Linked DNA regions of Homo sapiens: region 2 is linked to region 1. A link means that fine-mapping ties the variant in region 1 to the expression of a gene that starts in the linked region. Tissue or cell type: nucleus accumbens. Region 1 holds a variant in brackets; the other region holds the start of a gene. All regions are shown on one strand. Distances are between the middles of the regions.

Evidence for each region. PIP is the estimated chance that this variant, and not a neighbour inherited with it, causes the effect.
Region 2: TMEM238 starts here. The variant in region 1 is fine-mapped to the expression of TMEM238 in nucleus accumbens (GTEx, PIP above 0.99).

Annotation. Positions count from the first base shown.
Region 1 is chr19:55,203,156-55,208,299 of GRCh38, reverse strand. PTPRH (protein tyrosine phosphatase receptor type H) reads left to right here. Exons shown (of 20, transcript NM_002842.5): 2 at 1,101-1,134; 3 at 1,345-1,611; 4 at 2,708-2,974; 5 at 4,252-4,518. Among named protein-coding and RNA genes, the nearest start is that of PTPRH, 3.8 kb to the left of the region's middle. The variant G/A (reference allele first, on the strand shown) is at 2,247.
Region 2 is chr19:55,381,653-55,386,796 of GRCh38, reverse strand. It overlaps TMEM238 (transmembrane protein 238), which reads left to right and starts at 2,505. Exons shown (of 2, transcript NM_001190764.2): 1 at 2,505-3,075. The coding sequence starts at 2,538. The coding sequence ends at 3,068. It overlaps RPL28 (ribosomal protein L28), which reads right to left and starts at 865. Exons shown (of 5, transcript NM_000991.5): 1 at 832-865; 2 at 359-447; 3 at 104-227. The coding sequence starts at 439. RefSeq lists enhancers at 1,820-1,889, 1,920-1,989, 1,943-2,905 and silencers at 2,280-2,619, 2,910-2,999.

The DNA of each region.
Region 1 (5,144 bases):
CTCCCTCAGACCCAGGAATCCAGACCCCCAGCCCCTCCTCCCTCAGACCCAGGAGTCCAGACCCCAGCCCCTCCTCCCTCAGACTCAGGAGTCCAGGCCCCCAACCTCTCCTCCCTCAAACCAGAGGTCGAGACCCCCAGCCCCTCCTCCCTCAGACCCAGGCCCCCAGGCCCCCAGGCCCTCCTCCCTCAGACCCAGGAGTCCAGACCCCAGCCCCTCCTCCCTCAGACTCAGGAGTCCAGGCCCCCAACCTCTCCTCCCTCAAACCAGAGGTCGAGACCCCCAGCCCCTCCTCCCTCAGACCCAGGAGTCCAGACCCCCAGCCCCTCCTCCCTCAGACCCAGGAATCCAGACCCCCAGCCCCTACTCCCTCAGACCCAGGAGTCCAGACCCCAGCCCCTCCTCCCTCAGACTCAGGAGTCCAGGCCCCCAACCTCTCCTCCCTCAAACCAGAGGTCGAGACCCCCAGCCCCTCCTCCCTCAGACCCAGGAATCCAGACCCCCAGCCCCTCCTCCCTCAGACTCAGGAGTCCAGGCCCCCAACCTCTCCTCCCTCAAACCAGAGGTCGAGACCCCCAGCCCCTCCTCCCTCAGACCCAGGAGTCCAGACCCCAGCCCCTCCTCCCTCAGACTCAGGAGTCCAGGCCCCCAACCTCTCCTCCCTCAAACCAGAGGTCGAGACCCCCAGCCCCTCCTCCCTCAGACCCAGGCCCCCAGGCCCCCAGGCCCTCCACCCTCAGGCCAAGGTTCCTGATCCCCAACCTTGGTTTTTTTCTCCCTTCCCAGTCTGTTCATTGCTCTCTGCCCTCGGTTTTCCAAGGACATATATTTCAGGAAATGAAATCATTAATTTTATCTCTCAGCCTTATCGGGTGGAGCCAACCCCAGCTCCCTAAGCTCTGCTCCTGCCATGCTCCCCCTTCTCTCCTCGACCCAGGAAAGACGGTCGAGGTCGTGACAGCCCAGCCTAACACCGGCCCCTCCTTCCCATGCAAGGGTGACTCATGGGGCGGGGACCAGCCGCTCCTCCCAGCCCCTCGGCCTCACTGGGCGGAGGAGTGGTTGAGAGGCTGACTCCGTTTTCTCTGGGTTCCCTCCAGGGCCTGTGCAGCTGGACAGGGGCCAGGGCGCCTGGTGAGTGACCCCTGCCTGAACTCACTGCCCACTCGAAGAGGTGGGACCGCAACTGCCGTGAGCCTCTGGGGGGTCCCCGTGGGGTCCAGTGGTCCATGGTAGGGGTTTATGAGCGCCGTTGTTTCTGGACTTGGGGCGTGAGCTCAGGGGTTGGGAGGGATTGTACTGACCTGGTTCCCTTTTTGTCAGACCTTCCTTCCCAATTCTCAGCCCCCAACCCAGGGAGGAACCTGACAGTGGAGACTCAGACCACCAGCTCCATCTCCCTGAGCTGGGAGGTCCCCGATGGCCTAGACTCACAGAACTCCAACTACTGGGTTCAGTGTACTGGAGACGGCGGCACAACAGAGACTCGAAACACAACAGCCACCAACGTCACCGTGGATGGCCTTGGACCCGGGTCATTGTATACGTGTTCTGTGTGGGTGGAGAAAGACGGAGTAAATAGCTCTGTGGGGACTGTCACTACTGCCACAGGTAAGAGGCAGCCACTGCTTTATTTTTATTTCTTTTATAAGGACAGTGGTAGGGGGTGGTTGAGAGCTGACAAAATGCGACAGGTTCTTTAGTTGGATAGAAACACAGTGGAAGCCACACGTGAGAATTTCAATTTTCTATCAGCCACATAAAAATAAGTAAAAAGAAACTGGTCAGCCTGTCTCTACAAAAAAATTAAAAAGTAGCTGTGGTGGCGTGTTCCCGTGGTCCCATCTACTCGGGAGGCTGAGGTGAGAGGATCGCTTGAGCCCGGGAGGCAGAGGTTGCAGTGAGCTCTGATTGGACCGCTGCACTCCAGCCTGGGCAACAGAGAGAAACCCTGTCTCAAAAAAAAAAAAAGAAAAGAAAACAAAAGAAAACAAAAGAAAAGAAAAACAAACTAAATTACTATGAGAGATTTTATGTAGTCCATCAGATACAATTTTTTTTTTTTTTGAGGCAGAGTCTTGCTCTGTCGCCCAGGTTGGAGTGCAGTGGCATGATCTTGGTTCACTGCAACCTTTGCCTCCTGGGTTCAAGTGATTCTCCTGCCTCAGCCTCCCGAGTAGCAGAGACTACAGGCATGTGCCACCATGCCCAACTAACTTTTGTATTTTTAGTAGAGACTGGGTTTC[G/A]CCATGTTGGCCAGGCTGGTCTCGAACTCCTGACCTCAGGTGATCCGCCTGCCTCGGCCTCCCAAAGTGCGGGGATTACAGGTGTGAGCCACTGCACCTGGCAGATACAAGGTATTTTCATTTTGACTTGTAATCAATATAAAAACGATCATTCAATATATACACCAAGTATATACTCACACACACACAAATATATATAAAGGATCAATGAGACAGTTGACATTCTTAATTTCATACGAACTCTTCGAAAGCCGGTGTGGATCTTCCACTAACGGCTCATCTCATTTCACAAAAGCCACCTCACGGTGCTCAACACTCACGTGGAACTCGTGGCTGCCACACTGGACAGTGCAGAGCTGGGCCTCCCTGCCTCTACCTGCTGGATGCAACGGTTAAGGAAGGGCTGGAAAGTTTGAGGGCCAGAAACTACAACTGATTTTCCCTCCTGTGCTGGTTTTCAGCTCCCAACCCAGTGAGGAACCTGAGAGTGGAGGCTCAGACCAACAGCTCCATCGCCCTGACCTGGGAGGTCCCCGACGGCCCAGACCCACAGAACTCCACCTACGGGGTTGAGTACACTGGAGATGGTGGCAGAGCAGGGACTCGAAGCACAGCACACACTAACATCACCGTGGATGGACTTGAACCCGGGTGTTTGTATGCGTTTTCCATGTGGGTGGGAAAGAATGGAATCAACAGCTCCCGGGAGACTCGAAATGCCACCACAGGTGAGAGGCAGTCGCCATTTGTTTTGCTCTTACTTGTTTAAGGGGCAGTAGGCAGGAGAACGTAGCGGATTTCTATTCCATAGTCCCTCTGGGCCACATTGAGCCAGGTACTCATGTCCACATCCTGGGGCAGTCTCAGCTCAGGAGATGAAGAAGGAATGAATGTCCATGGTACCTCCAGCTGCTAAGCTGGGGCCGGTCTGTGTCTAGGACTCTCTAGAATGTACCTTCCTGCACCAAGAGGAATGTGTAGGGGCCAAGGCATGTTACCTGAGCTTTCAAGGAATTAGATACTGTGAGTGGGGACACTCTGACCCTCTGACTCTTCTTCTAGTCCCCAGCTGCGTCACATATTGAGGATGGAAACTCAGATCATCAGCTCCATGATCCTGATGTGGAGAGCTCCCTCTGGCTAGATCTCCATTGTCCGATATGGTAGCCACCAGCCACACATGGCTATTAAATTTAAGCTCGTTAAAGTTGCATGAAACTGCAAATTCAGTTTCACATTTCATATGTTTGAAAGCCCTGTTGAAGGGCTTCCATTTCCTTCTCTGTTCTCCTACCATACTGGAAGGTGGGAGAGCATTTCCATCGTTGCAGAAGCTCAGTTGGAAAGCGCTGGCTCAGGTCTTTGTTACTCAAAGTGTGGTCCATGTGTGGGCAGCATCCGGGTCTCTGAGAGCTGATGGAAATACATTGGCAAGTGACACTGGTGGGGGAGAAAAAGGGTGGGGGGGAGTGCAGTCTCTCAGCTCCATCCTAGCCCTGCTGAGTGAGAACCTGCATTTCACAAGGTCCCCTGTGAGATGTGCACACAGCAAAGAATGAGAAGCCCTGGTCTAGACCATAAACTCTGCATCTACTGGCACCAGCTGTTGAGGGACAACTAGGAACTCTGATGATCAAAAATGCCCACTTGGCCAGGCATGTTGCCTCACGCCTGTAGTCCCAGCACTTTGGGAGGCCGAGGTGGGAGGATCACCTGAGGTCAGGAGTTCGAGACCAGCCTGGCCAGCATGGTGAAAAAATATAAAAATAAGCCGGGTGTGGTGGTGCAGACCTGTAGTCCCACCTACTCGGGAGGCTGAGGCAGGAGAATCGCTTGAACCCGGACGGCGGAGGCTGTGGTGAGCCGAGATCGTGCCACTGCACTCCAGCCTGGATGACAGACAGAGACTCTGTCTCGAAAAAACAAACAAACAAAAAGCTCACTGGCTGCCCCCGTTATGTTCTGTAGTCCTGCTCATATTAGATCTTTCTTCCTAATTTCTCAGCTCACAACCCAGTGAGGAACCTGAGAGTGGAGGCTCAGACCACCAGCTCCATCTCCCTGAGCTGGGAGGTCCCCGATGGCACAGACCCACAGAACTCGACCTACTGCGTTCAGTGCACTGGAGATGGTGGCAGAACAGAGACTCGAAACACAACAGACACCAGAGTCACCGTGGATGGCCTTGGACCCGGGTCATTGTATACGTGTTCTGTGTGGGTGGAGAAAGACGGAGTAAATAGCTCTGTGGAGATTGTCACTAGTGCCACAGGTAAGAGGCAGCCGCTGTTTTATTTTTATTTCTTTTATAAGGACAGTGGTAGGGGGTGGTTGGGAGCTGACAAAATGTGACAGGTTCTTTAGTCCAATAGAAACACAGTGGAAGCCACAGGTGAGAATTTCAATTTTCTATCAGCCACATAAAAATAAGTACAAAGAAACTGGTCAGCCTGTCTCTACAAAAAAAATAAAAAAGTAGCTGTGGTGGCGTGTTCCCGTGGTCCCACCTACTCGGGAGGCTGAGGTGAGAGGATCGCTTGAGCCCGGGAGGCAGAGGTTGCAGTGAGCTCTGATTGGACTGCTGCACTCCAGCCTGGGCAACAGAGAGAAACCCTGTCTCAAAAAAGAAAGAAGGAAGGAAGGAAGGAAGGAAGGAAAGAAAGAAACTAAATTACTATGAGATATTTTATGTAGCCCATCAGATACAATTTTTTTTTTTTTTTTTTTGAGACAGAGTCTCCCTCTGTCGCCCAGGCTGGAGTGCAGTGGCGCAATCTTGGCTCACTGCAAGCTCTGCCTCCCGGGTTCAGGCCATCCTCCTGCCTCAGCCTCCCGAGTAGCTGGGACTACAGGCGCACACCGCCACACCTGGCTAATTTTTTGTATTTTTAGTAGAGA
Region 2 (5,144 bases), 180 kb before region 1:
CGCCGCGATGGCAGTTACCGCTCTTCCTGCCTGACAGTAAAAAATCACAGCTCCCAGACCCGGGAAAGGGGCCGCTCTCTGGCCCAAACCAGACAAAACTCACCGGATCTCCGCTTAATGACCACCACGACACCTTTGCCGTCGGCTGCCGGCTCCACGCCCACAGTCTTGCGGTGAATCAGTCCGTTGTAGCGGAAGGAATTGCGGGCCTTCAAGTTATTGGGCTCCTGGGAAGGAGGCGGCACAAGGCATCGTGAATAAGGGACCCGGAGACATGCGAAGGTCCCGCCCTCTGACCCAGAGTCAAGAGACTCAGGACCCTCCTCCCGCAGGAGCCACGCATCCGGGCCCCACTTACAGTGCTGTAGGTCTGCTTATTCCTCTTGATCAGGAAACTGGAGCAGTTCCGCACGACCATCCATTGCAGATGCGCAGACATGGCGGCGGCTGCGGGGAAACGGGCACAGGGAAAGCGTCAGACACAGAGAACTAAAGCAGCGTTAGGCCACGGGCCACGCTCGGACAGCAGAGGAAGAGAGCGACTGGGAACTTGGGTGAATGGGAGACCCCTGAGGGCAGACAGCGACCTAGAACTCTTGTCAGGCGGGACTGAGTGACCTAAGGCGGCGGGACCGAATTCAGGCAGCCGAGACTAGCTGCGGCGAATGAGAGTGAGGGGAAAATAACTTGAAAATTCACAACGACTTCACGGGGAGGGGTTGGGGTCCGCCAATGACCCTTGAGGCGCAAGGGGAGAAGGCAGGCAGAGGACTGAGAGGGAGTGCGCGGCGGGCCGGAGATGGCGACCACGCGAGGAAGACGAACGCTCACCTCCCTTCGCAGCGGCGACCTGAGACGGAAAGAGGAAGGCGAGGGGCGAGGCGACGCCTTTAATACCGTACACGCATTTCCGCTTCCTCTCCGGGCGGGCACGACAGGAGTTGTCGGTCCCCACCTCCGAGGCGGCTCGATGATGTTCGGCTGCTTCCGCCGAAAATTCGCTCAACGCTCGGGAATATTCGGAACTCTTCGGTTAGAGGGCCGAGAGCGTATTCCGGGAACCGTTCGGAAGTTTTCGAAACTCTACCGCTGGATTTCCGAGTGGCTCCAATTCGAGAGGTCCTGGGACCCATACCTCAGCGTTATCTCTCCAGTATTGCTCACCCAGCACTTGTCACTGTGATTGGCATATGATGGGCGCTCAACAAACATTTGTTTTATGAATGAACTGGTGAATGCGTGAACTATATAAGCCTAGCCCCGGCACCTTTGGATATTTCCGGTCTTCGTAAGCCCTCGCGGTGATGGCCAATGAGGGCGCCGAGGCCCGCTCGGGTATTTTCGGAACCCTCCGGAAACGCTCTTGGGAGAGGTGTGTATGTTCGGAAATACTCCGTCTTCATTCGGAATCCCTCGGCTAATCCTGGCAGCCCTCTTGCAGTTCGCCCTCCCCAGGGTTTTCTTGAAATAAAACTCTTAAACTGTTTAAGCCTGGGGAGAACCTACACGGAAACTTCTCGCTGACTGCCACCCCAGGGGAGCGCGGATGCCCTCTAAGGGAGAATTGTTTGGAGGGAGGGAGATTTGCATGTGGCTTCTCTTGGCTCCCTTTAGGATTCTATAGATTTGCCGGTCCTCTTCCCTGCCCTCCACCTGTGCCTCCAGCCTATGGTGTGCCTGTCACACCCCATCAGCTCCCTGGGAGGTTATGATCCGTTGTCAGGGCCACCCTAAGGGGGCAGGAGCCTTGCCTGATATTTCTCTGTGTCCTCGGCCTCACCCACGCGGCATGGTGCTGGGGAGGCCTCAGAGACTCCTACTGAACAAAAGGAATGAGGGTGCCTGTGTCACCTCCCCAGGGCTCCTTAACTTGCGGTTACACCCGGGCACTCCTTGGGGCAGGGGCTTCGTCTGGTCCATAGGACTATCCTCCATAGGACAGTCGGGGTTCGCCCAGCTTCCTCCACGGGTGCGCTCTGGACCTGATGGGTCTCGTCCGTCCTTGTGCCCGTGGCTTCATTCGCTGAACACAGGAGACCCCAGAAGACACGCGCTGAGTGAAGGAAACTCAGCTTCCGCGGAACCCGGAGCTTCCCCTCTTAGATCACCCCGACTACTGGTTCTCGCGTCCCAGAGCTCCTTGGTGTCTAAAGGCCTTGTCTGATCTGCACTGTCTGATCTGCACAGGCTTCGGGAGGCGGACACTGAGCAGAAACAACGCCACGCCCGGCTCCGAGTGTCCCATGCTGCCACCACTAAAATGCCCTGATTTTTGGCCATATGTGACCTCCCTGGGTGGCACGGGCCCTAGGCACCCGTGGCTGTGCGCCTGGCTACCACCAGCTCAGGCCTCTGAGCAATAGCCCCTGCACGGAAACCACGACCAGGGTAACCCCGGCCGCGCCGGTTCGCGCCCAGCCCGGTTCAGGTGACCAGGCGGGAGCTTGGCACACCTGGCGCCGTCCCCTGACCCCGCCCCGGACCGGGCCGCACCCCGGAACGCTCTCTCTGGGCGCCAGCGGCGGCGGTGCAGGGCCATGGCGGCGGCGCCAGCGGTGTGCGCCTCGCAGGGGAGCCCGCCGGGTGCACCGTCCGCGCCGGCGGCCGCGCCAGCACCCGCGGCCGGCCTGGGCCGCTGCCGGATGGCGCTGCTGCTGGCCGTGGCGCTGGATGTGGCGGGCATGGCGGCGCTGCTGACCGGCGTGTTCGCGCAGCTGCAGGTGCGCGGCCGCGACTTCGGGGACCTGCTCATCTACTCGGGCGCGCTGCTGGTGTTCCTGAGCCTGCTGGGCTGGATCCTCTGGTACACCGGCAACATCGAGATCTCGCGCCAGGAGCTGGAGCGCGACTACGGCCTGCGGCCCTCGGCGCTCGCCCGCCTGGCGCGCAAGCTCTCCCGCCGCTGGTCGGCGCCCGCCGCCGCGGGCCAGCGCCCCGCGCCCGGCTCCCGGAGAGCGCGCCGAGCCGCCCGCGCGCCCCCGCCGCCCGCCGCCGGCTCCCGCCGCGTGCGCCTGCAGCTCGCCACGCTCGAGGCCGGGCCCGGGGCGGCGGGCGCGGGCAGCGAGTGAGGCCCAGGTGAGGGGCGGGCGGGGCAGGGCGGGGAGACGGAGGGACCGAGGGAGGGACGGGAATGGAGACAGACGGGGGAGCGATGGACAGATGGAGACAGAGAGCGGCCATGGGGAGGTAGAGTCCCAGGGCGGGGTGGAGACAGGGACGGGAAGGCTCTGGCGGAGAACCGCAGACACAGCAAGCACAGGTGCATACGTGGGGGAGGCTGTGAGACCCTGCCCCTGGAGATGGGAAGTGTGGGGGTCGAGTCACACAGTTAGGCCCCCCGCACGGGGAGAGCCCCAGCTTCCAGGTACACCAGGCCCCATTTTTTGTTTTGTTTTGTTTTGTTGTCGTTTGGGGTTGTTTTGAGACAGGATCTCTCACTGTCACCCAGGCTGGAGTGCAGTGGCGTGATCTCAGCTCACAGCAGCCTCGACCTCCTAGGCTCAAGCAGTCCTCCCACCTGAGCCTCCCAAGTAGCTGAGAATACATGTGCGCCCCACCTTGCCGGGCTAATTTTTGTATATTTAGTAGAGACGGGGTTTTGCCATGTGGGCCAGGTTGGTCCCCACCTCCTGAGCTCATGCGATTTGCTCTCCTCAGCCTCCCAAAGTGCTGGGATTACAGGCGTGAGCCACTGAGCCCAGACCAGGCCCCATTTAATCCTCTCCATGTAACTGGTCTCCAAGGTCACTACTATTACCATCCCCATTCTGCAGTGGAGGAAACTGAAGCGCAGAAAGGCGCCACATTTGCCCAAGGCCACACAACACGTAGGTGGAGGAGCTGGGATTCTCCTGACCTGTAGGCCTAGGAAAAGAGGAGCTGGGATTCTCCTGACCTGTAGGCCTAGGAAAGGAGGAGCTGGGATTTTCCTGACCTGTAGGCCTAGAAAAGGAGGAGTAAGAAGGACCAACAGCAGGAGAAATGAAGCCACCACACATTCACTCCCCTTTCCCCTCTACCTTCTATCTCTTTCCTAAACACACCTTTCCAGCTAGCCTGCCTCTGCTCAAAGACCTGCTGTGGCTCCCTCTTCACCTTTGGTTAAACTGAAGCACTCACTGGCCTGTGGACCCCCCATATTTTGGCCCCATTTCTCCTGCCTCTCTGCACTAATGGTGTCTCTTAGTCCACAGATAGCCAGTTGGTCCCTGTTCCTGCTCTTCTCTACACCAGGAGTGCCCTTGGCTGTCTCCACTCCACCCAGAAAACTTCTCACATGTTTAAGATTTAACTTAATTTCTCTGGGTCTTCTCTGGGTCTTCATATTGTCTGAGCGACCCCTCTTGCTGCTTATATGGCCATGTGCTGTGTCTATGTTGTTACTGTCTCTCCCACCTGACAGGGAGTGCCTTGAGGGTAAGACCTAGGTCCCTAGCGTCCTTGTTCCTAGCATTGCCCAGCAAAAAGTGTGAAATCAGGAAAGGTTGATGGTTGGGTAGGGAAGTGGAAGGATGGATGGAAGAACGGATGGCTGGATGGGTGGATGGGTAGATGGATGGGTGGATGGATGGATGAGTTGGTTGATGGATGCATGGGTGAATGGATGATAGATTGATAGATGGGTGGGTGGGTGGATGGGTAGATCGATGGGTGCGTGGATGGATGAGTTGTTTGATGGATGGATGGGTGAATGCATAGATGGGTGGGTGGTTGGATAGGTGGATGGGTAGATGGATGGGTGGATGGACGGGTGAATGGACAGATGGGTGGGTGGGTGGATGGGTGAATACATGGGTTGGTTGATGCAGGGATGTGGTTGGATTGACGGATGGATGGGTTGTTTAATGGGTAGATATGGGTAGGTGGTGAATTGGGCAATGAACCATGAATGGATATGGTTGGAGAGGGAGCCCTGCCTGATAAAGGGGCAAGAGCTTTTCCTGATACTTCTCTGTGTCCTCGGCCTCACCCATGCAGCATGGTACTGGGGAGGCCTCAGAGACTCCTACTGAACAAAAGAAATGAGGGTGCCTGTGTCACCTCCCCAGGGCACCTTAACTTGCGGTTACACCTGGGAACTCCTTGGGGCAGGGGCCTCGGCTGGTCCATAGGACTATCCATAGGACAGTCAGAGTTTGCCCAGC